4 separate regions of the Homo sapiens genome follow, and all the other regions are linked to region 1. Evidence: fine-mapped expression QTL. A gene starts in region 1. Each other region holds a variant in brackets. All regions are shown on one strand. Distances are from middle to middle. Region 1 holds the start of NDE1 (nudE neurodevelopment protein 1). Region 2 overlaps MPV17L-BMERB1 (MPV17L-BMERB1 readthrough). Region 3 overlaps NDE1 (nudE neurodevelopment protein 1). Region 4 overlaps NDE1 (nudE neurodevelopment protein 1).

Evidence for each region.
Region 2: its variant is fine-mapped to the expression of NDE1 in whole blood (INTERVAL, PIP 0.97).
Region 3: its variant is fine-mapped to the expression of NDE1 in whole blood (INTERVAL, PIP 0.97).
Region 4: its variant is fine-mapped to the expression of NDE1 in whole blood (TOPMed, PIP above 0.99).

Annotation. Positions count from the first base shown.
Region 1 is chr16:15,647,038-15,654,789 of GRCh38, forward strand. It overlaps NDE1 (nudE neurodevelopment protein 1), which reads left to right and starts at 3,208. Exons shown (of 9, transcript NM_017668.3): 1 at 3,208-3,257. RefSeq lists enhancers at 2,909-3,410, 3,411-3,910 and a silencer at 6,275-6,569.
Region 2 is chr16:15,566,715-15,574,466 of GRCh38, forward strand. MPV17L-BMERB1 (MPV17L-BMERB1 readthrough) reads left to right here. Exons shown (of 6, transcript NM_001414674.1): 3 at 1,269-1,342. BMERB1 (bMERB domain containing 1) reads left to right here. Exons shown (of 6, transcript NM_033201.3): 3 at 1,269-1,342. Among named protein-coding and RNA genes, the nearest start is that of MIR6506, 41 kb to the right of the region's middle. The variant G/A (reference allele first, on the strand shown) is at 3,762.
Region 3 is chr16:15,705,642-15,713,393 of GRCh38, forward strand. All of the region lies in intron 8 of NDE1 (nudE neurodevelopment protein 1), which reads left to right. All of the region lies in intron 40 of MYH11 (myosin heavy chain 11), which reads right to left. Among named protein-coding and RNA genes, the nearest start is that of NDE1, 59 kb to the left of the region's middle. The variant C/T (reference allele first, on the strand shown) is at 3,969.
Region 4 is chr16:15,688,108-15,695,859 of GRCh38, forward strand. It overlaps NDE1 (nudE neurodevelopment protein 1), which reads left to right. Exons shown (of 9, transcript NM_017668.3): 6 at 3,037-3,216; 7 at 6,058-6,149. Among named protein-coding and RNA genes, the nearest start is that of NDE1, 42 kb to the left of the region's middle. The variant C/T (reference allele first, on the strand shown) is at 3,680.

The DNA.
Region 1 (7,752 bases):
AAACTCTGTCTCGAAATAAAATAAAATTCCAAGGGGGAAGGCATCAGACGTAGTAAAGTGTGAAGCAGCATGTAAATGATTCATTAATGTTTGGGAAGTTTCCTGAAAGACATTTGGTACTTTCCTTAAACCTGTTGATAGGTGGTGGGGTTCCCCTTTGTGCCTCTAAGCAGTTTTTAGGAATTAGCAAGGAGTTCAAAGTAGAATTTGAGAAAGGCTGTTGTAGGATAGCAGGAAGGCAAGATGGGGTGGGAGATCCTGTAATAGCTAAGATCTCTTTGCCTCTAGCATAGTGCTGAAGAAGGAGGGTTTAGGAGTCAGAGCCAGCTCTGAAGCCTGATTTGTTAATTACTAGTTGTAAGACCTCGGACAACTCAATTAACTTCCTGCACCTTTATTTTCTTATCTTTAACATGGATACAATTTAATGCTTTCCTGTGGTTCATCACCTGTGGTTCAGTTGCATGGTCTCCTCTCTACAGTGGCCTTCCCTGACTATAGCATCTGAAGTGACCCCTCCCAGCCCGTTGTATCAAATGGGCTTGCCTTAGTCATAGCACTTATCAGTATCTGAAATGACGTTACTTTTTCTGCTTATAGATTTAGTATGTTTCTCTCTTAACAATATAAGCCCTTTGAGGACAGGTACTTTGTCTGACTGTATTCACTGTGCTGTAAGGGTGCATTGTACAGAAGAATGCTCATAATGCCGGGTGCTGTGGTTCATGCCTATAATCCCAGCACTTTGGGAGGGAGGCTGAGGCAGGAGGATCACTTGAGCCCAGGAGTTCAAGACCAGCCTGGGCAACATAGTGAGATCCACGTCTCTACAAAAAAATGTAAAAATTAGCTGGGCGTGTTGGTGCACACCTGTGGTCCTAGCTACTCCGGAGGATGAGGTGGGAGGATCACTTGAGCCTGGGAGGTCCAGGATGCAGTGAGCTTTGATTATGCCACTGCACTCCAGCCTATGTCACAGGGTGAGACTCTGTCTCACAAAAAAAAAAAAAAGCTGGATAATAATATATATATTTTTAGTTTTTATGGGTACACTGTAGGTGTTTATATTTATGGGGTACATGAGATATTTTGATAACAGGCATGCAATGCATCATAATCACATCAGGGTAAATGGGTGTCCATGACCTCAAGCATTTATCCTTTCTTTGTGTTACAAGCACTCCAATTATACTCCTTTAGTTATTTTAAAATGTACAATACATTGTTGTGGACTGTAGTCACCCTGCTGTGCTCCCAAATACTAGATCTTATTCATTCTAACTCTATTTTTGTACCCACTAACCAGAATGTTCGGTATTTGTTAATGAACATGTTATGACAGGATGTTTTAGAAGAAAATAAAGAAAAAAAGAAATTCCAGCCAAGCATGGTGGCTTGATTTTATTTATTTATTTATTTTGAGATGAAGTCTCCCTCTGTCTCCCAGGCTGGAATGCAGTGGCGTGATCTCCACTCACCGCAACCTCTGCCTTCTGAGTTACATGGCTCACGCCTGTAATCCCAGCACTTTGGGAGACTGAGGTGTATTGCTTGAGGTCAGGAGTTCGAGACCAGCCTGGCCAACACAGTGAAACCGTGTCTCTACTAAAAATACAAAAAATTAGCTGGGCGTAATGGTGGGCGCCTGTAATCCCAGCTACTAGGGAGACTAAGACAAGAAAATCGCTTGAATCTGGGAGGCAGAGGTTGCAGTGAGCCGAGATCGCACCATTGCACGCCAGCCTGGGCAACAAGAGGGAAACTCTGTCTCGAAAAGAAAAAAATTATTTTTTAATTTTAATTTGTTAGTGAACAATTAGGGTTGCTGTGAGAATTGTGCCTGGCACACACAGCCATTTAAAAATCACGATCTTCAGGCAGTGTGTGGTGGCTCACGCCTGTAATCCCAGGACTTTGGGAGGCCGAGGTGGGTGGATCACCTGAGGACAGGGATTCGAGAGCAGCCTGGCCAACATGGTGAAACCCCGTCTCTACTAAAAATATAAAAATTAGCCGGGTGTGGTGATGCGGGCCTGTGATCCCAGCTACTCGGGAGGCTGAAGCAGGAGAATTGCTTGAACTCAGAAGGCAGAGGTTGCAGTGAGTGGAGATCACGCCACTGCATTCCAGCCTGGGAGACAGAGGGAGATTTCATCTCAAAATAAATAAATAAACAAAATCAAGATCATTTAACAAATACATATATTGTACTTACTAAGTTCAAATTTCTGTTCTAAACGTTTTTACAAATGCTGTTAAGTCATTTAGTCCTCTGCATAATGTCGTTTGTTTGTTTGTCTGTTCTTTAAGACGGAGTCTTGCCCTGTCGCCTAGGCTAGAGTGCAGTGGTGTGATCTCGGCTCACTGCAACCGCCACCTCCCGGTTTCCCGTGATTCTCCTGCCTCAGCCTCCTGAGTAGCTGGGATTACAGGTGCGTGCCACCACATCCGGCTAATTTTTTGTATCTTTAGTAGAGACGGGGTTTCACCATGTGCCAGGCTGGTCTTGAACTCCTGACCTCGTGATCCACCCGCCTTGGCCTCCCAAAGTGCTGGGATTACAGGCGTGACCACCGCGCCAGACCCATAATGGCGTTTTATAGATGGGGAAACGGAGTCATAGAGGCTAAACAACTTTCCCAAGACCACACAGTTAGTAAGGGGCAGGACTAGGACTCAAAGCCAAGTTTATGACCAAATTCTGGTGCACTACGTTCTCCTGCTTCTGGAGAAGATAATGATGCTGAAGATTCTACTTTTGGTGTAAAGGAGTAGGAAGGGCACGGGGCACTGCTAGCTTCAGTGGGCCTGAATCTTTGTCTTTCCTTCTGATTTGGAGAAAGTGCAAGAATGGGAAAATGCAATCGAAGTGAAGGAGAGGCCGGCGTATTTTCCTGAAATGCGCGGCCCGCAAGCCCAAACCCGTTTCCCGGGTGTCCAGGCAGCGTTCTGCAGCATCTCCAATGCCCGCCAGCCCGCCGCAGCCCAGCGCCCGGCAGCCGGCGCCTCTCAAACCCCCTCCGGCCAGGAGCCTTCGCCGCTTGGCCGCGCCGCGCCCGGCCTGGGAAAAAAGTTTCCAAACGACGCTGCTCTGCGCTGATTGGCCGAGGCGGACGCGGTACCGTAGAGCAGCAGCCAATGGGAGGCGCCGACCGCAGGCTCCGGGGCGGGGGCGGGGTCCGGAGGGCCGGGGCCGCACCGCCCTTCGCAGCCGCCTCTGCCGCCGCCGCCGCGTTGGCCTCGCCGCCCCTGCTCGGGTAAGTGAGGCGCTGCGCGGGGCTGGGGTCGGGGTGGCTGTCCGGGGACCTCCACCGCGGCTGAAAAGCTCCTCTGCCCCGCCCCAGGATCCCGGGACCCCGGGCCACCGCCTGGCAGGGACCCCTACGCCCCTCGCTTGCGCGTCGCTTCCCGGCCGCCTGGACTCCCCCGGTCCCTGGGCTCCAAAATCCCGCCTCCCTGGAGCCTCCCGTCCTAAAAAGTTAGGCACTGAGTGCCTTGCCACCGGTGCGTTCCTCGCGCTGGCCCCTCGCCCTTGGCAACTTTGTTTCTCTTTCTGCGTTGGTCTCTCTCCCACCCCGTTGCCCTCTTCTCCTTCCGGGACTTCCTGGGTGGTTAAGCCTTGCCGGTCCCCAAACCCCGCTGCCAGGCTCCATCCTCTTTCTCCTCTTCCTTCCTCCCCATACTCCTCTCCTAGATGACCCTCGTTTCTTTTCTCTCTCTCTCCTATTCCTCCATCCTGCCACCCGCTTCTCTGCGACCCCAGACCCCTCGATTGCAGCGTTGCCCCTGCCCTCACACCCACTGTCCCGCCCCTGCAGGCCTCTTTCCAAAAACCCACCCTGCTCCCTCCCTCCGGGAACACGTTTGGGGCAGTCTGCTCTCCGCTTTGCTCCCGTCTCTGCCGCAGGACGGTTCAGGTTTCTTCTGACAGCACTTTGGGGAGGGATTGGGTAAAGGACGAAAATGCTTATTCCGCAGCTTGAGTGATGGCTGGGCTCACTGAGGACCTGAGTCTCTGAGGTCCTGGGAAACCCCGCTGTCACCTTGACACCGCTTTTGGGGAGGCGACTTTATCTTCTCCGAGCCATCTCAGGCTTTCTGCCTCCTGAGGGCCTGAGCTTCCTTGATTGCTTTGTCCGTGGTTACTACCAGGTTGTGCCTCTTAATTTCTACTTTGAGCCTCAGGCCCCTTTTAACTTTCTAAAGAAAAGGCCTTTGCAGCACGACCTAGGCAGGTTCATCATTTTTAGTTTTGTTATAGTGTATTCTAGCATAGGATGGCATTTTAGGACATGGGTCGGGTGTTTTGAAGATTAATTAGATCCCAGCTACTCCTAAAGCCTCTTGTTACCCGACCACCCCAGCCTCCATCACCTCGTTGGTATACAACCCGTTTTTTTTTTTTTTTTTTTGTTTTTGTTTTTGAGACAGAGTCTCACTCTCGCCCAGGTTGGAGTGCAGTGGTGCGATTTTGGCTCACTGCAACCTCCGCTTCCCGGGTTCAAGCGATTCTCCTGCCTCAGCCTCCGGAGTAGCTGGGACTACAGGTGCGTGCCACCACGCCTGGCTAATTTTTTGTATTTTTAGTAGAGATGGGGTTTCACCGTGTTAGCCAGGATGGTCTCGATTTCCTGACCTCGTGATCTGCCCCCTCGGCCTCCCAAAGTGCTGGGATTACAGGCGTGAGCCACCGTGCCGGCCTACAACCCATTTTGAGCCTTTCCTCTTAGTGTGTGTTTTGTGTAGGATTAAATGCAGATGATCTGTGCCGCTGAAGTCTCAGGGGCCTGTGATTCATATATTTTATCCCATGTTGGATAACAGTTTATTAACTTGACTTATTTTTGTTTCCAAAGTGTGTTATTTATTATTTATTTATTTATTTATTTTGAGACGGAGTCTTGTTCTTGTCCAGGCTGGAGTGCAGTGGCATGATCTCGACTCACTGCAACCTCAGTCCTCCGGGTTCAAGTGATTCTTCTGCCTCACCCTCCTGAGTAGCTGGGATTACAGGTGCGTGCCACCATGCCCGGCTAATTCTTAGTAGAGATGGGGTTTCACCATATTGGCCAGGCTGGTCTCAAACTTCTGACCTCGTGATCTGCCCACCTCAGCCTCCCAAAGTGTTGGGATTACAGGCATGAGCCACTGCACCCGACTCTATCATTATTATTATTTTTTATGTAGAGGCAGAATCTTGCTTTGTTGCCCAGGCTGGTCTCAAATTCCTGGGCTCAAGCAGTCCTCCTGCCTTGGCCTCCCACAGTGCTGAGATTACTTGCAGGCATGAGCCACTGCATGCAGCCCAAAGTGTGTTCTTTTGCCTTAGAATGTGAGCCGAGAATTGACACTCCTTTTCCTCACAAGGTAATTTCCTAACATGAGCATTCCTGTGTACAGAAAGTTTGTGCCTGCAGTTAGTACTACACGTGCACCTCGTGCAATGGATGTGGGTGCTTTTTGTCTGCCTCCTTCAGCAGTGCCCAGCACTTAGTAGGTATTCAAGAAATGTTTGAAAAGGGTTGGAGGAGGCAAAACCACAGTAGGAAAAATTCTTTCCCTGTCACTTGGTTCAGTAGAATAAAATTATCCTGGAACAATAGCTATTTTACTTTTTGTCCAAGTTTTTGTTTGTTTGTTTTTTGAGACGGGATCTCACTCTGTCGCCCAAGCTGGAACACAGTGATGCAATCACAGCTCACTGCAGTCTCGACCTCTCAGGCTCAAGCAATCCTCTTGCCTGAGCCTCCCAAGTAGCTGGGACTAAAAGCACATGCCACCATGCTTGGCTAATTTTTAAAATTTTTTGTAGAGATTGGGGTCTCACTATGTTGCCCAGGCTGGTCTCGAACTCCTGGGTTCAAGCGATCCTTCCGCCTCAGCCTCCCAACGTGCCGGGGTGGGAGAGAGCCACCGCGCCTGGCCTAAGCTTTTTAAAATCTCTAAAGCGATCTATGCTTACTGTATATATGTGTATGTAGTTTACCTTAAAGCAAGGTGTCAGGTACAAATCCACAGGGCTTGCTTTACCCCCATTCTGGTGCATCCTCCAGACCCTTTTCTATTCTGTGTACAGAGAGAGGGAAATAAACAAAAATGGGCACCCATTTTTAACATATCCTGAGCTTTCTTCCATATTAGTACTTACAGTTCTTAACAACTGCATCGTTTTCCATTCAGTCCTCTGTTGACATTGAGGTTTCCAGTTTTCCACATTCGTGAATGATGGTGTGCATCTTTGAACATGGGTCCTTGCCTGCCTAAGTATTTTTGTAGGTTGATCATTGTAAACTTGGAAAGCACAAAGACAGAAGCCAGGCTTGCTGACTCTTGACTGATGTTGCCCCAGTGATGTCACTCCTGCAAAATGCAAAGCCTGCGTCCTGGCTGTCGGAGCATGTGTGGACATTTGGCAGCTTCTTTCTCTTCCCTCCTGCTCTTCTGTTTGTTTTGATTGGGAAGGATATGGAGTGGGGATGGAGAAGGGTGTTGAGTAATTATCGATGGTTTCTGTATGTTTATTGCTCCTGACTAGCAGTGCTGGGTTTCTTCTCTCAGAGGAAAGCTGAAAGAGATTGCTTTGCTTTTTTCCAGAGTTTTAAAATCAGAGGTGTGTGTCTCGAGTGTATTTTCAGACTTTTTTGTTAGCTTTAATCATGTAAAACATGCAAAAAAAAAAAAAGCATGTGGAAACAATTTTTTTTTTTTGAGACGGGTTCTCGCTCTGTCACACAGGCTGGAGTGCTGTGGGGCGATCTCGGCTCACTGCAACCACCGCCTCCCATGCTCAAGTGATCCTCCCACCTCAGCCTCCTGAGTAGCTGGGACCACAGGTGTGCATCACCACACCTGGCTAATTTTTTTGTGTTTTTGGTAGAGATGGGGTTTCACCATGTTGCCCAGGCTGGTCTCTTATCTGCTGACCTCAGGTGATCTGCCTGCCTCACCCTCCCAAAGTGCTGGGATTACAGGCATGAGCCACCACACCCGGCCGGAAACAAATTTTTGAAGGAGGCATAGATCTCTGTTGTGCAAAATAGATACTTTTTGTACCACTGGGTCCTAGTTTGTCATTGTTCCTTGCATGATCCCATCAGATTTGTCTACAGAGCTGCTGGGGCATGATGGTGTGGTGGCGTATTAAGAACGCAGGTTAGTGGCACACAGATGAAATAAATGCATGTGGGGTGCATTTTTAAGATAGCAGGTGCAAAGTTGTATATACTGAGACCAGGCATTAACACTTGCCTATTACAGTGCCTTTTAAAACACTATGTGAGGGCCGGGTGCAATGGCTCACACCTGTAATCCCAGCACTTTGGGAGGCCTAGGTGGGCAGATCACCTGAGGTCAGGAGATCGAGACCAGCCTGGCCAACGTGGCGAAACCCCGTCTCTCCTAAAAATACAAAAAATTAGCCAGTCGTGGTGGCATGCACCTGTAATCCGAGGTACTAGGGACGCTGAGGTAGGAGAATCGCTTGAAGCTGCGAGGCAGAGGTTGCAGTGAGCTGAGATCACACCACTGCACTCCAGCCTGGGCAACAGAGAAAGAGATTCCGACTCAAAAAAAAAAAAAACAAAAAAAAAAAAAACAAAACTGGACCAAATGAAACAAGTGAATCTGATCTGCAGTCAGTCAGTTTGCAACCCCTGGGAAGCCTTGGACTTGAATGCAAAGATCCCTTGAACTTGGATCTAGTTTGCCTCTGCTGCTCACATGCACATTTAGAGATGGCCAAGGCATACGGTG
Region 2 (7,752 bases), 80 kb before region 1:
ATCAATATAATGGTATACTATGCAGCCACTAAATATGTGGAGATTTGCATATACTGATATGGAAAGATGATCAAGACTATTAAAGATTATTAAATTGAAAAAAGCAAATTGCAAAAAATTTTTGTGCAATAACAATGGTGTCATATATGATATTATAAGCATACGCTTTTTTTTTAAATCTGGAGGAGGCTGGGTGCAGTGGCTCATACCTATATCCCAGCACTTTGAGAGGCTGAGGTGGGAGGATTGCTTGAAGCCAGGAATCCAAGACCAGCCGGGCAACATAACGAGGTCCCTCTCTCTACAAAAAACTGTTTAAAAATTAGCCTGTAGTCCCAGCTACTCCGTAGGGGGCTGGGGTTGGGAGGGGTTGTGCAGAGGTGGGAGGATCCCTTGAGCCCAGGAGTTCAAGTCTGCAGTAAGCTATGATCACGCCACTGCACTCCATCCTGGGCAACAGAGCGACACTCTATCTCCAAAAATAAAAAATAAAAAATTAAACATTTTCAAAATAAAAATGTTTTTAAAAAATCCAGAGGAATACATACTAAACCGTTGACAATGATTCTCTCCGAAGGACAGAGGGAGACTTTCCTCTATGTTGTGAATTTCTGCAGTGTTTAAAAAACGTAAACTTTAGCTGAAAAACGAAACTGAATATGCCATATGAACCCACTTATATAAGCAAACCTAAGTCAGGCACATGAAGACTGGAAGGAGCTCTATCGAGGTGTTATTAACAGTGACTGATGGCCAGGCACCGCGGCTTATGCCTGTAATCCCAGCACTTTGGGAGGCTGAGGTGTGCAGATCACTTGAGGCCAGGAGTTTAAGACCAGCCTGGCCACCATGGTGAAACCCTGTCTCTACTAAAAATACTACTAAAAATACAAAAAAAGTTAGCTGGGCATGGTGGCAGGCACCTATAATCCCAGTTACTTGGGAGGCTGAGGCAGGAGAATCGCTTGAACCCGGAAGGTGGAGGTTGCGGTGAGCCGAGATCATGCCACTGCACTCCAGCCTGGGCAACAGAGTGAGACTCTGTCACAAACAAACAAACAAACAAAAAACAGTGATCATTTCTAGGTGGTGGGATAATTGAGCAGTGTTTGGCTTTTTCCTTTTGAGGGAAAACCTCTACAATGAGCATGTATGGCCTCTTCAAAAGATAACCCACCTTTAATAGCTTCTTTGTGTTAACCGGGTGATGCTCAGGGCGTAATGCTCTGCTGATGTAACCTGCTGTTGATGGTGTCCTGTTTCCCCAGGATGGATGACATCCAGCTCTGCAAGGACATCATGGACTTGAAGCAGGAGCTGCAGAACTTGGTCGCCATCCCAGGTAACCATTTGCAACTTCACCTTGTGCTAAACAGGTGCTTGGGGGCCCCCAGCCTGGCCCATCTGTACGCCTGGGTCTGGAAGACAGAGCCTCATTCTTGCAATGCAGTGCTCCCTGACTGCATGTGTCAAACACAACTTCGAGTCAGGAAGACCTGGGTTCAAGTCCTAGTGAATTCTGGTCACCTTCTTGTCCTTGGACAAGTCACTGTACTTCTCTGAGACTCAATTTCTCCTCCTCTGAAAATTGGCTAGTAATAGTAAGAGGGTCTAATTCATTGAGTATAAATATCCTAAAGAGGCTGGGCACGGTGGCTAATGCCTGTAATCCCAGCACTTTAGGAGGCTGAGATGGGTGGCTTACTTGAGGTCAGGAGTTTGAGGCCAGCCTGGCCAACATGGCAAAACCCCATCTCTACTAAAAATACAAAAATTAGCCAGGTGTGGTGGCACACACCTGTAATCCCAGGTAACCGGCAGGCTGAGGCAGGAGAATCACTTGAGCTTGGGAGGTGGAGGTTGCAGTGAGCTGAGATTGTGCCATTGCACTCCAGCCTGGGCAACACAGCGAGACACTGTCTCAAAAAAATATATAATTAAATTAAATTAAATATCATAAAAATCGATGAGATGATGCAAACTAAGTGCTTAGCTTGATATTTGGCCTCAAGAGTCCAGTAAATATTAGCAATTATGACCATTATTATCCTACTTGGGAACAGATGAAGTGTGTACAAACTCTAACTTTGAAGTCACCCCAGATTTGGTAGTTAATAATGCCTGACTTATTTGGCATCTTCTCCAAAAAATTTTCCCCTGCCCATCAGGCTGTGTTAGTTGCCCTCTGTGGGGCTTACCCTTATCAAAATGCTAGTCCCAGGCCAGGCATGGTGGCTCACGCCTGTAATCCCAGCAGTTTAGGAGGCTGAGAGGGCAGATCACTTGAGTTCAGGAGTTTGAGAACAGCCTGGCAAACATGGTGAAACCCCATCTCTAGTAAAAATATGAAAATTAGCCAGGGGTGGTGGCGGGTGCCTGTAATTCCAGCTACTCAGGAGGCTGAGGTGGGAGAATTGCTTGAACCCAGGAGGTGGAGGTTGCAGTGAGGTGAGATCTCACCACTGCACTTCAGCCTGGGTGACAGAGCGAGACTCCGACTCAAAAAAAAGAAAGAGAGAACTGAGTAATTTATAAAGAAAATAAGTTTAATTGGCTCACAGTCCTGCAGGCTGTACCAGAAGCATGATGCTGGTGTCTGCTCAGCTGCTGGAAGGCCTCAGGAAACTTATAATCATGGCGGAAGACAAGGGAGCAGACATGTCACGTGCCCAGAGCAGGAGCAAGAGAGTGAGGCGGGAGGTGCCACACACTTTTAAAAGACCAAATCTCATGAGAACTCACTATCACAAGGACAGTACCAAGGAGGATGGGGCTAAACCATCATGAGAAACCTCCATCATGATCCAATCACCTCTCATCAGGCCACGCCTCCAACACTGGGTATTACATTTCAATATGAGATTTGGGCGGGGACACACATCCAAACTATATCAGAATGGATGCTGCTGATTGGTTGGGGATGCAATCATAGGTGTGTGAAAAATGATTCTCAGGGGTGCTAAGTCCACTTCTGGGTGGCAGGTCCACGTGGATCATCATTCATCAGAAATGCAAAACCTAAAGAGATATCTCAAAAGGCTGATCTTAGATTCTGCAATAGTGATGTTATCTGCAGGAGTAATTGGGGAAGTTGCAAATCTTGTGACCTCTGGAATAATGGCAGTAGTCATTTATGTCTACACCTTAGCAGAATTCAGCCTCCTCCCATCCTTCTAACATGGGGGCCTTTTATTAGCTTTACAAAGGCAGTTTAGTTGGTGGAAAAGGTTATAATCATTTAAACTATAAACTAAATGTCTCCCAAAGCTAGCATGGCCTAAACCTGGGAATGATTAAGGGCAGCTTGGAGGTTAAAGGCAAGATGGGGGTTGGTTAGATCAGATCCCTTTCACTGTCCTAATTTTCTCACTGTTATCATTTTTGCAAAGGTGTTTTCAAATAGGCCAGATAAGCACCCACCATTACCCTTGACTTGAATGTTTTTGCCATGCTGTCAGTTCAATAACTATGTCCCAAGAGGCTGTTCTGCAGCAAGCTCTGAACCTAGGAGCCGGGCTTGCAGTGATGAACAGAGAACGGTTCTCCACTCTCAAGGAGCCCCCAGGTTAGCAGAAAGAGACTGGGCCCAGCACACAGTGGGTGCCCATAAGTGGCAGTTCTTACTGAGCTACAAGTGCAGCATGATGAGCCTTAGAGCAGCGTTTCCCAACCTTCAACTATTGACATTTGGGGTTGACAAATGTCAGTATCTTCCTTTGGGGTTGATCATTTTTTGTTGGGGGTACGGGGCTCTGTGTTGT[G/A]TCTTGTGGGATGTTGAGTTTCATCCCTGGCCTCTACCCACTACAGGCCATTAGCACAACGTACCTCTCCGCTACCCCTCAATGGTGATGTTACCTGAAAGGGATCCTGATCCAGACCCCAAAGTTCTTGGACCAAGAGCAAGAAAGAATTTAGGGCGAGTCCGTAAAGTGAAAGCAAGTTTATTAAGAAAGCAAAGGAATAAAAGAATGGCTACTCTGTAGGCAGGGTAGCAGCTTGGGCTCCTCGATTGATTGTACTTATAGCTATTTCTTGATTATATGCTAAACAAGGGGTAGATTATTCATGAGTTTTCTGGGAAAGGGGTGGGCAATTCCCACAACTGAGGGTTCCTCCCCTTTTTAGACCATGTAGGGTAACTTCCTGATGTTGCCATGACATTTGTAAACTGTCATGGCACTGATGGGAGTACCTCTTAGCATGCTAATACCTTATAATTAGCATATAATGAGTAGTGAGGACGACCAGAGGTCACTTTCATCGCCATCTTGGCTTTGGTGGGTTTTGGCAGCCTTCTTTACTAATGCTGTTTTATCAGGAAGGTCTTTGTGACCTGTATCTTGTGCCGACCTCCTATCTCATCTTGTGACTTAGAATGCCTAACCTCCTGGGCATTCAGCCCAGTAGGTCTCAGCCTTATTTTACCCAGCCCCTATTCAAGATGGAGTCACTGTAGTTCAAACCCTTCTGACAGTGACAACCAAAAATGTCTATAGATGTACAGATGTTGCTGAATGTACCCCAAGCGAGGTCAGGGGGGTGTGCAACATTGCCCTATGAAAGGAAAATAAAGTCCCAGGACCCCAATTCACTATACCAAAAGGAAAAGTTAAGCTTGGGAACTATGAGTCATACAAAAACCTACTTTTTTTTTTTTTTTTGAGACGGAGTCTCGCTCTGTCCCCCAGGCTGGAGTGCAGTGGCGCGATCTCTGCTCACAGCAAGTTCCGCCTCCCGGGTTCATGCCTCAGCCTCAGTCTCCCGAGTAGCTGGGAGCCTGTAGGCACCTGCCACCACGCCCGGCTAATTTTTTGTATTTTTAGTAGAGGTGGGGTTTCACCGTGTTAGCCAGGATGGTCTCGATCTCCTGACCTCATGATCCACCCACCTCAAGCCTCCCAAAGTGCTAGGATTACAGGTGTGAGCCACCACACCCAGCCAAAACTGCCTTTCTTTTTTTCCTAAACAGATAGCTGCAAGATAGAAAGGCCACCTATCTTCCCAGGGGCCTCCCTCACCCTGTCAATGTAAATTAACAGCTTATCCTAACAGGTAGGGGACTAAGACAAGACTATAAATCATCGTCCCTCCGCCCACCCGGAGACAAATGCACATTTGACTTCCTCCTCTACTCCGCGTTTCCTTTATCCTATGTAAAATGCAAATTCACTGAGGGCCAGAGAATGCAATCCTCCCCTTCCTGCCCTCTCTTTCCCCTTTAAATATTGAAGTCCTTAAGATCCTCTGCAGAAAAAAGCACAGGCCGGGGATCCTATTGCTGCCTGTGTCTCTTTTTCCCAGGTGCCTCCTCGACTTTGGCAAAATAAACCTCCAGATTGATTGAGACCTTCTCAGACACTTTGCAGCTTACAGCTCCCACATAAGAACTACTACTTTAGTAATTAGAGTGCAGCAATCTGGGTTTGAATTCAGCCTTAGCAGGCAGGTGAACTTCGTGAAAGTTCGCGACTTAATTTCTCTGAGCCTTGAATTCCTTGTTGGGAAAATGAGGCCAATAATACTACCCCCCGCATGGTTGTTGTGAATATCCCATAAATAACAAAGGCAAGGTGTAGGAGTCTTCCACACAGTCTTGTTGTAAGGGTAGTGTGCGCAATGACAGTAGAACTGAATCCTCTAGCTTTCGTGAGCATTTACTAGGTGCCCAGCACTGTGTAGGCCCTAAGGATAAACGAGTGAATAGACTTTCCTAGTTGAAAGAGAGCGACAGCTAGTGGGTATGGGGTTTCTTCTGGGGGTGATTAAAATGTTCTAAAATGGATTGTGGTGATGGTTGCACAACTCTGCAAATACACTTGGAACAGATGAACTGCATGGTATGTGAATCATATTGCAATAAAGCTGTTACCAAAAAAAGTTAAATGTCAAACATAAAACAACGAAGGAATGAGGGAAAAGTACCAAAGTCTATTCTCCACCCACTAGAAACCCCAATGCAATTGATCTGGCATTGTTGGCTTTGGACTCTGGCATTGTAATAGAACTCAACTTGTGATATGGTTTGGCTGTGTTCCCACCCAAATCTCATCTTGAATTGTAGCTCCTATAATCCCCGTGTGTTGTGGGAGGGACCCAGTAGGAGATGATTGAATCATGGGGGACAGTTTCCCCCATACTATTCTCATGGTAGTGAAGAAGTCTCATGAGAGCTGATGGTTTTATAAGGGGTTTCCCCTTTCGCTTGATTCTCATTTTCTGTGCTGCCTGCTGCCAAGTAAGACGTGCCTTTTGCCTTCTGCCGTGATTGTGAGGCCTCCCCAGCCACGTGGAACTGTGAGTCCATTAAACCTCTTTTTCTTTATAAATTACCCAGTTGCGGGTATGTTTTTATCAGCAGCGTGAAAATGGACTAATACAACTAGGGTCTGCTTTCCTGGCACAGTAAGACCAGCTGTCTCCCCAGAGTTTTTGCAGTGGTAAAAAGGAAACAGTTTATTTGCAAGGCTCCAAGCCAGGAGGACTGGGCAGCTAATGCTTCAAGCCTGACCTCCTCAATGGCTTATAGGTAATGTTCTGTCCAACAGGTTCACCTTGCCCTCTGCCTAGACAAACCTGACTTATCAAGACTGGGGAATTACAATAGAGAAAGAGTAATTCATGCATAGCCGGCTGAGGGAGACTGGAGTTTTATTATTCCTCAAATCAGTGCCCCTGAGCATTCCAGGATCAGAGTTTTTAAAGACGATTTGGTGGATGGGGGTGGGGGTGCAGTGAGAATGGAGTGCTGATTGGTTGGGTCGGAGATGAAATCACAGGGAGCCGAAGCTGTCCTCTTGCACTGAGTCAGTTCCTGGGTTGGGGCCACAAGGTCAGATGAGCCACTTTATCTGGGTGGTACCCACTGACCCATCAAGTGCACGGTCTGCAAAATACCTCAAGCATTGATCTTGGTTTTTACAATAGTGGTGTTATCTTCAGGAGTAATCTGGGGAGGGTCAGCATCTTGTAGCCTCCAGCTGCATGATTCCTAAACCATAATTCCTAATCTTGTGCTTAATTTGTTAAGTCCATTTTCACACTGCTGTCAAGAACTGCCCAAGACTGGGTATAACGGAAAGAGGTTTCATTGACTCACAGTTCGGCATAGCTGGGGAAGCCTCAGGAAACTTACAATCATGGTGGAAGGTCAAGGAGAAGCAAGGCACTCTCTTCACAAGGTGACAGGAAGGAGAATGAACGCAGGAGGAACTGCCCAACCCTTATAAAACCATCAGATCTCATGGAACTCACTCACTATCATAATTCCTAATCTTCTGGTTAATTTGTTAAGTCCATTTTCACACTGCTGTCAAGAACTGCCCAAGACTGGGTATAAAGGAAAGAGGTTTCATTGACTCACAGTTCGGCATAGCTGGGGAAGCCTCAGGAAACTTACAATCATGGTGGAAGGTGAAGGAGAAGCAAGGCACTCTCTTCACAAGGTGACAGGAAGGAGAATGAACGCAGGAGGAACTGCCCAACCCTTATAAAACCATCAGATCTCATGGGAACTCGCTCACTATCACGAGAACAGCATGGGGAAACTGCCTGCGTGATTCAGTCACCTCCACCTGGTCTCTCCTTTGACACGTGGGGATGATGGGGATTATAATTCAAGATGAGTTTTGGGTGGCGACACAAAGCCTAACCGTATCACCTACAAATGCAGTCTAGTTCCCAGGCAAGAAGGGAGTTTGTTTTGGGAAAAGGCTGTTATCGTCTTTGTTTTAAATGATAAAGTAAGTTCCTCCC
Region 3 (7,752 bases), 59 kb after region 1:
GAAGCCATAAGGATGAACACAACTCAGTGACCAATTCTTTAGTCAAAAGGAACAACTCGGCTGGGCATGGTGGCTCACACCTGTAATCTCAGCACTTTGGGAGGCTGAGGCGGGCGGATCATGAGGTCAGGAGATCGAGACCATCCTGGCTAACATGGTGAAACCGTGTCTCTACTAAAAATACAAAAAATTAGCCGGGCGTGCTGGCGGGTGCCTGTAGTCCCAGCTACTCGGGAGGGAGGCTGAGGCAGGAGAATGACATGAACCCAGGAGGCGGAGCTTGCAGTGAGCCGAGATGTGGCCACTGCACTCCAGCCTAGGCGACAGGGTGAGACTCCGTCTCAAAAAAAAAAAAAAAAAAAAATCAAGGCCCAGAGATTCATGATCACTGAGAAGAGGAATTCGCAAATGACCCTTTTGTTGACAGAGGATGGGAGAGACCCCGGCTGGGAAAGCCCACCTGGCTATAAAGGATGGGACTTCCCGCAGTGCAGCGATCAGGAATAAATACTTAAAGCTGCAGCCACTTCAAAGTAAACACTCCTAGCCCAGCTTCACAGAGAAGCTTCTGGACTTGCAGCCCTACTAGAGAACTCTCCATCCTTCTCTCTCTAGATGTGACCCTTAAGTCTTTTTCTTTTTTAGCACTGTTTTCCAAGCGCTTGACTCAGAAGGATGCTCAAATTCAGCGCAGAGGAGCAGCAGTTTGACTGTTCCCTGTACGCTCCCCACACAGCTCTCTTCGTCACAGTTTTAACTCCAGGTTCAAACCCTGATGGGTTGGCCAGTTGCTGCGACTCATGCCTGTAATCCCAGCACTTGGGGAGGCCGAGGTGGGCAGATCACTCGTGAGGTCAGTTGTTCGAGGCCATCCTGGCCAATATGGTGAAACCCCGTCTCTACTAAATATACTAAATTAGCCGTGCGTGGTGGCAGGCGCCTGGAATCCCAGTCACTCAGGAGGCTGAGGCAGGAGAATTGCTTGAACCCAGGAGGTGAAGGCTGCAGTGAGCCAACGTTGTGCCACTGCACTCCAGCCTGGGAAACAGCAAGACTGTCTCCAAAAAAAAAAACAAAAAAAAATCTGATGAGCTGGGAAGTAGTCCCTAACCTCCACATCAGTGCTCTAGGCACTCTCTTTTTGGCTCTTGGAAGAGTCTATTTGCTAACTGGAAAAGCTTAATGGATAAATTTGCTCCCTTGACCTAAGAAATACATTGTGCCCTGGGCCGTTGAAGCTCCTTGCTTGGCTGTCAGCCTGCAAGATACTCTGTTTTGGCTGAAGTGCTTTTCTTGGAACTGGTTTCAAATCCTAGACCAAGGTTGACACCAACTATACCTGTTACAGGAACTAAGGGACCCCCCTAAAGGTTTTCTTAAAGGGTCTGATCCTGGAGAATCTGGAATTTTTTTTTGAAATAGAGTCTCGCTGTGTTGCCCAGGCTGGAGTGCAGTGGCGTGATCTTGGCTCACTGCAGCCTCTGCCTCCCAGGTTCAAGCGATTCTCCTGCCTCAGCCTTCCAAGTAACTGGGACTACAGACATGCCACCACTCCTGGCTAATTTTTGTATTTTTAGGAGAGACGGGGTTTTACCATGTTGGCCAGGCTGGTCCTGACCTCAAGTTATCTGCCCGCCTCGGCCTCCCAAAGTGCTGGGATTATAGGCATGACCCACTGTGCCTGGCCTAGCATTTGGATTCTATTCGTGGACTCAGCTTATCCAAGGCCTCGGGAATCATCTTGAGTGTAAGCACCTGCTAGTTTGCAAGGACTCAGTTTCCCACTGACCAGTGGGTTCTGCACTTCAGCCCACCCTGGAATTTGGCTTATCCTATGATCCCAATCAGCTGGTAGGAGAGCTGCTTGAAGTGTCCTAGAAACTCATCTGCTCCCCCACAAAACTGGCTCTTAACAAGACCTCACCCTGCGCTTTAAGTATTTTGGTAGTGACAGCAAAGCTGAGATTCTCCAAAAATGAAGATGGACACAAATGAGGGTTGGTTTGGCCTCTCCATGAGGTGAAGTCAGATCCACATGGCCTAACTTCACCTGTGAAAAGTTGGTCATGCTTGTAATCCCAGCATTTGGGGAGGCCAAGGCGCGCGGATCACCTGAAGTCAGGAGTTTGAGACCAGCCTGGCCAACATGGTGATATCCTGTCTCTAATAAAAATACAAAAATTAGCTGGGCGAGGTGGCGGGAGCCTGTAATCCCAGCTACTCAGAAGGCTGAGGTAGGAGAATCGCTTGAACCCAGGAGGCAAAGGTTGCGGTGAGCCAAGATTGCGCCATTGCACTCCAGAGCGAGACTCCGTCTCAAAAAAAAAAAAAAAAAAAAGCAAAATCCCAGAGCAGCAGAGACCTCTTCATGCTTTCTTGGGAAGGGCCCTGTGTGCATCCTTGAGTCTTGGGTATCCACTCCCCAGTCCCTGAACATGTACATGCCCGTGAAGCCTCCAGAAAAGGCTCTGCCAGGACTGTGCTTGGCTTTGCGGTGGTCAGCTTCCACCCCGTGTGCTGAAAATGCAGTTTGTAGCTAGACATCACTCAAGCCACGTGCAGCCCCCGGCATTTGTCAGACATCGCAGTGAGCTCATTTCCTTCGCAGACAAGCCTGTGAAAGCTGAATCATGGGAGGACTGGTTGCCGCGCCGCAGTTACCGTGAACTTTGTGATCTCTGACTTGTGACCCAGACCAGCCAACTAGAAGCCAAGTACGTTCTCCAGGAATGTGCCCAGATAGTGGAACTGTCATATTCATTCAGTGCAGTGTCTTCACTGGACAAGGGAGGACAGCACTGCTGAGTGCCCTAACCACGTAAGAGTGGCTTTTGGCATGAAAGGAAGAAAAATCCAAGCTACACACACAGCCTCTGCCATCTCGTCAAGATGCAGTGATAAGGGCGCACACTGTTGGGTGTCATGTCACATGTGCTGCCCAGAGGCAGGAAGGACAGTGGGTCAAGAGATGAGGTCTATTTGTCATCCTGATCTTGGTTTCAATGAAAGCTTTGCACAAAGATATCCAAGCCTCCAGATTTTGCAAGAATCTCGTGGAAATGTGCAAGGGTTTAAAAATTGGGGTGGGCAGAGGGGCGCATTGGGCAGAAAAGAAATGGATACTGAGACAACACACAGCTGCGAAGCTGAAGGCATGATACCTGGTGCATCACTGCGAAGTTTCCTGTGGGGGGGGCCCTCTGAAACAGAGAGAGAATCCCCGGAGGTTACCATCAGCAAACAAGAAGGAGCCCGGTTAAGTATATTCTTAATTGTTAAAGACATTTGCTTCGATTTAATAATTAAAGGCACTCTTTTTTATTTTGAGATAGTCTCTGTCACCCAGGCTGGAGTGCAGGGGTGCGATCTTGGCTCACTGCAACCTCTACGTCCTGGATTCAAGTGATCCCCTTGTCTCAGCCTCCCGAGTAGCTGGGATTACAGGCAGGCCCCACGTGCTTGGCTAATTTTTGTATTTTTAGTACAGATGGGGTTGCACTATGTTGGTCAGGCTTGTCTCCAACTCCTGATGTCAATGATCTTCCTGCCTTGGCCTCCCAAGGTGCTGGGATTTGGGATTACAGGCATGAACCACCGCACCTGGCATTAAAAGCACCCTTAAGTCAACGTTGCAGTGAATCACCTGACGCCAAGAGCATTTGGTGAGGCTGGTAGATGAAAGGATAAGCAGTTTTTTGATACTCTGTCACCCAGGATGGAGTGCACTGGCATGATCTATCTCTGCTCACTGCAACCTCCACCTCCCGGGTTCAAGCGATTCTCCTGCCTCAGCCTCCCGAGTAGCTGGGATTACAGGCATGCACCACCGTGGCTGGCTAATTTTCATATTTTTAGTAGAGACGGAGTTTCACCATGTTGGCCATGCTGGTCTCGAACTCCTGACCTCAAGTGATCCACCCACCTCGGCCTCCCAAAGAGCTGGGATTACAGGTGTGAGCCACTGCACC[C/T]GGCTCAGTTTTTTAAATGGAAAGGAAAATGTCTGTCCTTTAGAGCTACTTTTAAGAACCTCCTATAAATCCCATGATTGCATACTGGTTCAGGGAAGTAAAAGCATTTGAGCAAGCTAGTTTGAGAAATCAGTGTTGGAACAGAAGCCAAGAAGTCCCAGGCAAGGAACCTGCAGCCGCCTGTCCCTTGGTTTATGATTACTTGCTCTTCATTAGCTTTCGGGCCTCTAGCAAGAGAGGAGAGGTGGAGGCCTTGTACAGCTCTTGCCGGAGGTAACTGGCAGTGTAGCCAGTGGTAGGTAAGTGGGTCTGGCTTTAGAGAGGGCTTGTGTCGAGATGCGTCTGGCTGATAGAACTTGGTGAAACTCGCACTACAGTTCCTTCTTGGCTGAGGAGCCAGGCATGCTTACCAACCTCCCTCAGGGCTCTAGTGCCTGATTTTATGTTTTTGTGCACCCAAAAGATGCAGAAGGCAGGACAGACCTTCCACCTGCATTATGTGTGTATTCGTGTCGGAACTGGCAAAAATGGTCTTTTTGTTCCACTTTGCCCTTGGCTGCCCAAGAAGGCTCAAGTGTCTGGGGCAGAACCCACAGGAGGTGTCCAGTGTGTGCTAAAGAATCACTGGGCCGGCCGGGCATGGTGGCTCACGCCTGTAACCCCAGCACTTTGGGAGACCGAGGCAGGTGGATCACGAGGTCAGGAGATCGAGACCATCCCAGCCAGTATGGTGAAACCTTGCCACTACTAAAAATACAAAAATTAGCCAGGTGTGGTGGCACGCACCTGTAATCTCAGCTACTTGGGAGGCTGAGGCAGGAGAATCGCTTGAACCTGGGAGGCAAAGGTTGCAGTGAGCCGAGATCGCGCCACTGCACTCCAGCCTGGCAACAGAGCTAGACTCCGTCTAAAAATAAATAATAAAAAGAAAAGAAATCACTGGGCCTGAGAAAGGGAAGCAGAGACAGCAGTGGGGTAGGGAGTCAGAGTGGCTGTATCCCCATCGCTCAGCCCAGCCACTCAGGAGAGGCAGGGGGACTGGTTGCCAGCAGAGCACATCTGAGGGTTTTTGTTTTTTGTTTTTTTTTTGGAGACAGAGTCTTGCTCTGAAGGCTGGAGTATAGAGGCTTGATCTTGGCTCACTGCAGGCTCCTCCTCCTGGGTTGCAAAGGAGTGTCCTGTCTCAGCCTCACGAGTAGCTGGGATTACAGGCATCTGCCACCACGCCTAGCTGATTTTTGTGTTTTTAGTAGAGATGAAGTTTCACCATGTTGGCCAGGCTGGTCTCGAACTCCTGACCTCAGGTGATCAGCCCACCTCAGCCTCCCAAAGTGCTGGGATTACAGGCGTGAGCCACCGCGCTTTGCCCCAGGAGTCTTCACAGTGAGAACAGCTCTCCTCCACTGACCCCTCAACCCTGGGAGATGCTTCCAGGCCCCTGCTGTACTTTGGGAGCCTAGGCCTGGTTTCTCTCCTATCCATGGGGGACCAACAAGCGCTCACCATGCAGCGAGTGGGGCTTTTCCCTGAAGGCTTGGTGCCCTGCGCCAGCTGCTCTCTTCCCCTTCTCAGAGGGGTTTGGACTTTTCCCTGTCTCACGCAGTGGTCCCCAAACTCTAGAGGTGATTTCAGATGGCTTCCGGGCATGCCATCCGCTAACTGAACTGGGCCCTGAGAAAGTCATTTCCTTTCCAACTCTTTTTAAACAAGTCTAATTATGATGTCAGAGAGAGTCTATTTGGTGCTAATGGCTGTTGTCACTCCCTTTTTAGTGGAGAAGTAGGCTTCAGGTCTTGGTGATCAAGTTGTGGCCACAATAGCTAGATATTGAACTTGATACTATTTTTATCATATTACTTTCATCGTAACCAGTTGATAGAGGTGATGCTGGTTTAAAAATATAGAGGAGGTATGTTTATTTGCCGTTATATTCATGTATGATTAAAACTGTTAAAAGATCAAGTCATTGGTATTAAAGGTAGTAAGAGGCTCAGCACATGGCTGTGGTGGTATGAGAATGAAGCGGGGAAAATATCTAGGACCCGAGGGATAAAGGTTCACTCTGCCTGGTGCTGTCCTAGACACTGGAGATTTTTTTTTTGAGACCGAGTTTTGGTCTGTCACCCAGGCTGAAGTGCAGTGGTGCGATCTCAGCTCACTGTAACCTGTGTCTCCCAGGTTCAAGCGATTCTCCTGCCTCAGCCTCCCTAGTAGCTGGGATTACAGGCACGCCCCACCATACCCGGCTAATTTTTGTGTTTTTAGTAGAGACGGGGTTTCACCATGTTGGTCAGGCTGGCCTTGAACTCCTGACCTCAGGTGATCAGCCTGCGTTGGCCTCCCAAAGTGCTGGGATTAAGGGGTGAGCCACTGCACCCAGCCTGGGCAGGATTCTTTAGGGAAAGTTGACCAGATTCTCCCATAGATGGGATGTGGGGTATAAAGGAGACCAAAACGTTAAGAAGGACCACGAGGTTTGTGATGTGAATTGTTGGCAACTTCATCATTTTAGCTGCTGAGCTGGAGAGAGGAGCCAGTTTGGGGGTGAAGAGTTTCAGTCAGGACTTGGGGTGCAGCATGTTTGGTGTGAGCTGCCTATTAGACATCCATGTGGGAACGGGAGGGTGGTCTGAGGTTCTAGGAAGAAGCTAGGGCTTCTCAGAGATGAACTGAGGAGTCATTAGATATACATGGAATTCTAAAGCGCCAAGATTAGTTGAGACCTCTCACCTAGCGCTGGGGAGAGATGAAAACAACTAAGGCCGTGCAGTGGTCCATGCCTGTAATCCCAGCACGTGGGGAGGCTGAGGCGGGTGGATCACAAGATCAGGAGTTCAAGACCAGCCTGGGCAACATGGTGCAACCCCATCTCTACTAAAAATATAAAAATAGGCCAAAAATAGCTTGAACTGGGAGGCAGAGGTTGCAGTGAGCTGAGATAGTGCTACTGCACTCCAGCCTGGGCAACAGAGCAAGACTCTGCCCAAAAGAGAACTAAGTTGATACCCTGGGGCGGTCTAGTGGCAAGCAGGTTTCGAGGTGAGGGATCAGCAGAGGAGAGGAAGAGGGACAACCCCACAGGTCGGGGGACAAGCAGGTGTGGATGGTGTCGGGGAAGTCCAGGGAAGCAAGTGAATTAGGCCAGAGGCATGATGGACTGCGTCACGTGCTGCTGCCCTGTCAGGGGACCTCTGGCCATTAGTGTCACCCATGGGAGGCTTCTGGGAGAGTGATGGGTGGGGGCGAGGGGAACCAGCAACTCTTCACATACAGTTTTTTTTTTTTTGAGACCGAGTCTCACTCTGTCACCCAGGCTGGACTGCAACCTCTCTCTCCCGGTTTTAAGCCATTCTTGTGCCTCAGCCTCCTGAGTAGCTGGAACTATAGGCATGCACCACCACACCTGGCTAATTTTTATATTTTTTGGTAGAGACAGGGTTTCGGCATTCACATCCAGTTTTGTAGTAAGGGTAGCAAGGTAGACATGGGGCTAAGAGGTTATTCCATTTGCTGATGGAGCAAATGAAAGAGAAAACCTTGCAAAATAAGGATTTTTGGAGCTATGTGCTTGAGTGAACAAGAGGGTCGGGTCCAATGGAGGTGTTGGCCTCGGTTGGTGCCAGAGGGTTCAGCATAGAAATGGAAAAAAAATAGAAGTGTACAGAGGTGCACGGAGGTAGGATGATGAGGCAGTGGGAGCTTGTGCACGTTTCATGATCATTTCTGCTTTTGAGTTAAGTAGGAAGTAAGGTCCCCAGCTGAGAGAGAATGGGGAGGAGCGATC
Region 4 (7,752 bases), 41 kb after region 1:
GGAGTATGCAGTGAGCTATGATGGCACCAGTGCACTCCAGCCTGGGTGACAGAGTGAGACCCTGTCTCTTAAGAAGCAAAGATGTTGTGGGGAGAAATTTCTGGTGGAATTGCCAGCTAGCCTATTATTTTTGTGACTTGATGGCAACCAATATATTTGGCTAAAACTTTGAAACCTCATCAGCATTTGCTCTTTTTCAGTTGGCACTTCCAGAGGTAGAATGTTGAAACTGTAATGAGGCATTTGGCCAGGCACAGTGGTTCACACCTGTAATCCCAGCACTTTGGGAGGCTGAGGCAGGTGGATCACCTGAGCTCAGGAGTTTGAGACCAGCCTGGACAACATAGAGAAACCCCATCTCTACTAAAAATAGAAAACATGAGGGTATGGTGGTGGGTGCCTGCAATCCCAGCTGCTCAGGAGGCTGAGGCACGAGAATTGCTTGAACCTGGGAGGTGGAGGTTGTAGTGAGCCAAAATTACACCATTGCACTCCAGCCTGGGTGACAGAGTGAGACTCTTGTCTCAAAAAAAAAAAAAAAAAAAAGACATTCATTAGTGGATTGTCCAAGTTGTTTTTACCTTTTTTTTTTTTTTTTTTTTTTTTTTTGAGATGGCGTCTTGCTCTGTTGTCCAGGCTGGAGTGCAGTGGTGCTATCTCTGCTCACTGCAACCTCTGCCTCCCAGGTTCAGCGATTCCCCTGCTTCAGCCTCCTGAGTAGCTGGGACTGCAGGTGTGCACCACCATGCCTGGCTAATTTTTATATTTTTAATAGAGATGGGGTTTCACCATGTTGGCCAGGCTGGTCTTGAACTCCTGACCCCAGGCGATCTGCCTGCCTCGGCCTCCCAAAGTGCTGGGATTATAGGGGTGGGTCACTGTTGCTGGCCCAATTAATTATTTATAACGTCGATTTGCTTTCTAATGTGTAACCAGTAGGTGGGGGATAAAAAGTAAAAATTCTTAAGTTTAATAAAGTAGTTGTTCCTAGATGTCCATCAGTAATGAAGTGGTTAAATGAAGTACATAGATGTATTTTGTGAAATGTTAATGGTTAAAATGAACAGTAGATAGAAATGTTGTGGTAGAAAGATTGCCAAGGCTAGGCACAGTGGCTGATGCCTGTAATCTCAGTGCTTTGAGAGACGGACGCAAGAGGATTGCTTGAGCCTAGGAGTTCAAGATGAGCCTGGACAACATAGTGATACCCCATCTCTACAAAAATGAAAATTGTAAAAATTAGGCCTGGTGGCATATGTCTGTAGTTCCAGCTACTTAGGAGGCTGAAGTGGGAGGATGACTTGAGCCCAGGAGTTCAAGGTTACATTGAGCTATGATTGTGCCACCGCACCCCAGCCTGGGTGACTGAGTCAGACCCTGTCTCTAAAACAAAAATCATTGCCAAGACATACCACTGAAGTGGGGAGAGTAAGTCATACACAGGACAACATATTGTATGTTTCCAGTAATGCTTAATAAAAAATTTTCTTGTTTTATGCTCAGTAGATACATACATATGTATAAAGTTTATGTTTGAAAATGGAGAGAACAGCTGGGCGCAGTGGCTCACGCCTGTATTCCCAGCACTTTGGGAGGCCAAGGTGGGTGGATCACCTGAGGTCAGGAGTTAGAGTCCAGCCTGGACAACATGGTGAAACCCTGTGTCTACTAAAAATACAAAAATTAGCCAGGTGTGGTGGTGCGTGCCTGTAATCCCAGCTACTTGGGAGGCTGAGGCAGGAGAATCACTTGAACCCGGGAGGCAGATTTACAGTGAGCCGAGACTGTGCCACTGCACTTAAGCCCGGGCAAGAGAGTGAAACTCCATCTCAAAAAAAAAAAAAAAAAAAAATTCAGAGAACAATGGTTGAAAAGCTCTCCCACATGTTATGGTGATGATGAGTGAGGAGGAGCATTTGGGGATAGTCTGGAAAGCATACTTTATTTATTTTTGAGACAGTCTTGCTCTGTCACACAGGCTGGAGTGCAGTGGCGTGATCTCAGCTCACTGCACTCACTGCTTGTCCCCCAGGCTCAAGCGATTGTCTTGCCTCAGCCTCCCAAGCAGCTGGGACTACAGGCGCTCACCACCACGCATGGCTAATTTTTTGTATTTTTAATAGAGACGGGGTTTTGCCATGTTGGCCTGAAAATTCCTGACCTCAAGCAATCCTCCCATCTCGACCTCTCAGAGTGCTGGGATTATAGGCTTGAGCCAGTGCAACTGGCCTTTTTTTTTTTTTTTCTTTTTTTTTTTTTTTTTTTTTTTTTTTTGAGCCAGAGGTCTCACTCTCGCCCAGGCTGAAGTGGTATGATCATGGCTTACTGCAGCCTCGACTTACTGGATTAATGTGATTCTTACACCTCAGCCTCCCAAAGTGCTGGGATTACAGGCATGAGTCACTGCTCCCGGGCATATTTTCATTTAGTGTTCTAAATACACTGCTATGTTGGAATTGTTTTTTCAATAATAAAAGCATTAGTGTGTCACTGTCATAGCTTTTTAAAAATCTGAAACCATTTTGTTAGTCAAGAGAAACATCCTGTAGAGTTCCAAGTCTGCTAGGCAAGGTCCTGTGGGTTTCCCTTTATTTGGGGTTTCTACCTGGAGTGTTTCACCCCAGTAGGTCTTTTTTCTGACTGGTATCTACTGTTGAACCTCTCTCCCTGCACCCCACCAACCCTAAGCAAGGACTTAAATTCCCTTTTTGTTTTTTGAGACGTAGTCTTGCTCTTGTCACCCAGACTGGAGTGCGCTGGAGCAATCTCAGCTCACTGCCACCCTGGCCTCCCAGGTTCAAATGATTCTCATGCCTCATCCTCCTGAGTAGCTGAGATTACAGGTGCCTACTACCATGCTGGGCTAATTTTTGTATTTTCAATAGAGATGAGGTTTCACCATGTTGGTCAGGCTGGTCTCGAACTCCTGACCTCAGGCGATCCACCTGCCTTGGCCTCCCAAAGTGCTGGCATTATAAACATGAGCCACTGCGCCTGGCTGAGGACTTGAATTCCTGAATCCTTTTTCTGGCACAGATTTGCGGCAGGAACTGGCCGTGCAGCAGAAGCAGGAGAAACCCAGGACCCCCATGCCCAGCTCAGTGGAAGCTGAGAGGACAGACACAGCTGTGCAGGCCACGGGCTCCGTGCCGTCCACGCCCATTGCTCACCGAGGACCCAGCTCAAGTTTAAACACACCTGGGAGCTTCAGACGTGGTAAGGGGAGTGGGAATTGCAGGATTTTCTCGGTTCACAAAGTGTTTCTGGGTAAGAATCTGGGGTGGGTCCTGGGGGTGTGATGATTTGCATCAGGCTCAGAGCCTGATTTGCTCTCAGGCTTTGAGCAGAGAGTAGACTGGGATGTTCTTGGGGATGGGCATTGAGATCAGTGAGGACTGGGTAAGAGGCAGTAGTGGAGTCTGATGAAATGGAAACCCCACCCAGAGCGGGTGGCTGCCACTCTGCAGCTACGAGGATTGGCCCTTCATCTGCAGCTTTTTCCATTCTTCAAAGCCAGAAATCCTCTTTTTTTTTGTTGGGTTTTTTTTTTTGAGACAGGATCTCACTCTGTTGCCCAGGCTGGAGTGTAGTGACGTGATCTTGGCTCACTGCAACCTCTTCATCGTGGGCTCAAGTGATTCTCCCACCTCATCCTCCGGAGTAGCTGGGACTAAAGGCA[C/T]CTGGCTAACTTTTGTATTTTAGGTGGAGACACAGTCTTGCCATGTCGCCCAGGCTGGTATCAAATTCCTGGACTCAAGTGATCCGCCCACCTCGGCTGATCCCAAAGTGCTGGGATTACAGGTGTGAGCCACCGCGCCTGGTCAAAAATCCTCTTGTTGAATATAAAACCTCCCAAATTTGAAATGTCACTGACCAAATACAAAAAAGTAAAAAGCGTTCTGTGGGTTTAGTAATACATCCACCGAGAGCTAGACTCAGCGTAACGTGTGCTGCATGGGCAGAAAAAAAGAATCTCAGTTCTCACCCCAGCCCCTCTGCTGACAGCTTCCGATCAGGCCTTTTACAGCAGATATTAATAACAGACAGTTAAGGAGTGCTCAGTGTGTGCTGGCCAGCCTGCAGCCTTCGCCGCAGGCCCAGGATGCAGGTGCTGTCCCCGTTTGATGAAAGTGAGGCTCTGAGTTAAGCAGAGTCATGAAGCAATTGAATGGCAGATGGTTTGGGATTCAGACCCAGGCAGGCAGGCTCCAGGGCTTACCCTACCATCTACTACCTTATCCCTTAGCTTGTCCCCTGGGCATGAAGAGACCAGTGAGACTTCTAGAATTCCGGTGCAGAGCCCTTCTGTTTAGTTTTGTTGAGATGGAGTTTTGCTCTGTTGCCCAGGCTGGAGTGCAATGGTGCGATATTGGCTCGCTGTAACCCCCTCCTCCCAGGTTCAAGTGATTCTCCTGCCTCAGCCTCCTGAGTAAGCTTGAATTACAGGTGCCCACCACCATGCCTGGCTAATCTTGTATTTTTAGTAGAGATGGGGTTTCACCATGTTGGCCGGGCTGGTCTCAAACTACTGACCTCAGGTGATCTGCCTGCCTCAGCCCCTGAAAGTGGTGGTATTACATGTATGAGTCACTGTGCCTAGCCCCAGTCTAGAGCCATTTTGCATACTTTATTTCATTGTTGTTTTTAGAGACACAGTCTTGGTCTGTGGCCCAGGCTGGAGTGCAGTGGTGCAATCATAGCTCACTGCAGCCTCCAACTCCTGGGCTCCAGTGATCCTCCTGCCTCAGCCTCCTGAGTAGCTGGGACTAGAGGCATGCAACTCCATGCCTGGCTATGTTTCCACACTTCAATATGCATGTAGCTTACCTGGGGATCTTGGTAGAATGTACCTCAGATCAAGTGGGTCTTGGGTGGGGCCTGAAATTTCTTTCTCTCTTTTTTTTTTTTTTTGAGACAAAGTCTTGCTCTGTCGGCCAGGCTGGAGTGCAGCGGCATTGATCTTGGCTCACTGCAGCCTCTGCCTCCTGGATTCAAGCGATTCTCATGCCTCAGCCTCCCGAGTAGCTGGGATTACAGGCAGGCACCTGTTACCATGCCCAGCTAATTTTGTATTTTTAGTAGAAACAAGATTTTGCCATGTTGGCCAGGCTGGTCTTGAACTCCTGACCTCAACTGATCGAACTGCCTCGGCCTCTGAAAGCACTGGGATTACAGGTGTGAGCTACTGTGCCTGGCCGAGAGATTCTGCATTTCTAACAGTTCTCATGTGCTGCTGGTGCATGGACCCCACTTGGAGAAGAGAGGCTCTGCAGAGCGGGACCCTTGTAAAGCTGGATCATCCTGTCTATAGTTCTTGTATCTATCACAGATGCCATTATGTTAATTAACTATATGGATTTTCTACAATTTCAAAAGGATTTGTTTTGGGTTTGTTTAAAAAGACTAATGTGGCTGGGCACGGTGGCTCATGCCTGTAAATACCAGCCCTTTGGGCGGCCAAGGTGGGAGGATCGCTTGAAACTAGGAGTTCATGATCAGCCTGGGCAACATAGTGAGACCCTGTCTCTATTAAAAAAAAAATTTGTTAAAGGCCAGGCATGGTGGCTCACGCCCGTAATCCCAGCACTTTTGGAGGCCAAGGCGGGCAGATCATTTGAGGTCAAGAGTTCGAGACCAGCCTGGACAACGTGATGGAACTCTGTCTCTACTAAAAATACAAAAATTAGCCGGGTGTGGTGGCACATGGCTATAATCCCAGCTACTCAAGAGGCCAAGGCAGGAGAATCGCTTGAACCTGGGAGGCGGAGGTTGCAGTGAGCTGAGATCACATCACCGCACTCCAGTCCGGGTGACAGAGCAAGACTAACATGTAAAAATAAGTATTTGTTGCAGTCATCACAAGGACTTGAAAAATTGGTTGTCATACGGGCCTTGGGTGTGTGATGCGGTTAACTACGGAAAGAAATAGGGTAGCTTTTGGGATCCGAGGAAAGGCGTCAGTGTCCCTCCTGTCCCGTGGTTTTGGATCTAGCGATGTTAACGCACAGACATGACTATAGGTTGGTGAGTTACATGCTCTTCCCTTTGCACACCCAGGCCTGGACGACTCCACCGGGGGGACCCCCCTCACACCTGCGGCCCGGATATCAGCCCTCAACATTGTGGGAGACCTACTGCGGAAAGTCGGGGTAAGACCACACTTTCCTGGCGTTTGGTGCCTTCCTGCCTGTCTTTCAGGATGTGTGAAGGGGGTTGATCTAGTTCCTTCCCTCTCTTCTTTTTTTCTTTTTTTTTAGAGACAGGGTCTTGCTCTGTTGCTCAGGCTGGAGTGTAGTGGTATGATCACAACTCACTGCAGCCTCAAAATCCTGGGTTCAAGCGATCCTCTCACCTTAGCTTCCCGAGGAGCTTGGACCACAGGTGTGCGCCACTATGCCTGGCTGATACTTTCATTTTTTTGTAGTAATGTGGGTATCGCTGTGTTGCCCAGGCTGGTCTTAAACTCCTGGCCTCAAGTGATCCTCCCAGGTTGGCCTCCCAAAGTTCTGGGATTACAGGCATGAGCCAATGCGTCCAGCCCCTTTCATAGCAGTGTGGTGAGTTTTAGGTGTGGCTGCTCCTTTAGCATCCCTGGGAATCATTAGAGCTTCCTGTGGGAGTTACTGCCAGACACTCAGAGCTCTGACTCGAAGCCCTGCTCTGAACCCTATGTATGTCTCTTTCCTTTTACCGTTTTTCCTCTAGGAAATTTGGGAAATTAGGGTGATATGTGTGTTTTTTCCTTAACTCGAAAAATTAAGGAGCACTTGGAAACTGCCTTCTCTTTTGGCCGGGTGCTCATACCTGTAATCCCAGTGCTTTGGGAGGCCAAGGTGGGAGATTACTTGAGCTCAGGAGTCTGACACCAGCCCGGGCAACATGGTGAAACCCCCTGCCCCGACTTGGCCTCTACAAGAATGCAAAAATTAGCCAGGCCTGATGGTGTACACTGGTGGTCCCAGCTACTCAGGAGGCTGAGAGGTGGGAGGATTGCTTCAGCCTGGGAGGTTGAGGCTGAGTGAGCTGAGATTCCAACACTGCACTCCATCCTGGGTGACAGCACGACGTTGTCTCAGAAGAGAAAAAAACTGCCACCTTTTTTTTTTTTTTTTTTTTTTTTGGTTTGTTTCTTGGGGTTTAAGTGAATTTTGACACTTTGGGAGACCGAGATGGGTGGATCACCTGAAGTCAGGAATTCAAGACCAGCCTGGCCAACATGGTGAAACCCCATCTCTACTAAAAATACAAAAATTAGCCAGGAATGGTGGTGGGCACCTGCGATCCCAGCTACTTGAGAGGCTTATGCAGGAAAATTGTTTGAATCCGGGAGGCGGAGGTTGCAGTGAGCTGAGATCGCACCGCTGGGTGACAAAGTGAGACTTGGTCTCAAAAAAAAAAAAAAAAAAAATCTTGAAAGCCTAGGGCAAAGAATTTGGCCTTTCAGCTTTTATGTTAATTACAGGGAGGGATCCTTTTGTGCTTAAGTAAAAACATAGGTATTCTTTGTAGTTTATTTTTAAAAATGATGCCTAGAAGGCCACATAATTTAACTCCTACCAAGTTGTCACTGTACACAGTGTATTTGTAGCTACAACTTAATAGAAGCTTGCAACTCATTTCTTTTGTTTTTACTTCTGGTTTTTGGCTGTCTGGTTTGCTATTCTAGAAGCAGGTCTGCATTTCAGTATTTAGCCTAGTTGGAGTATAGAGAAGCCTGGGGTGCTGTCAGTGTCCTTTTGGTTTCCTCAGGGT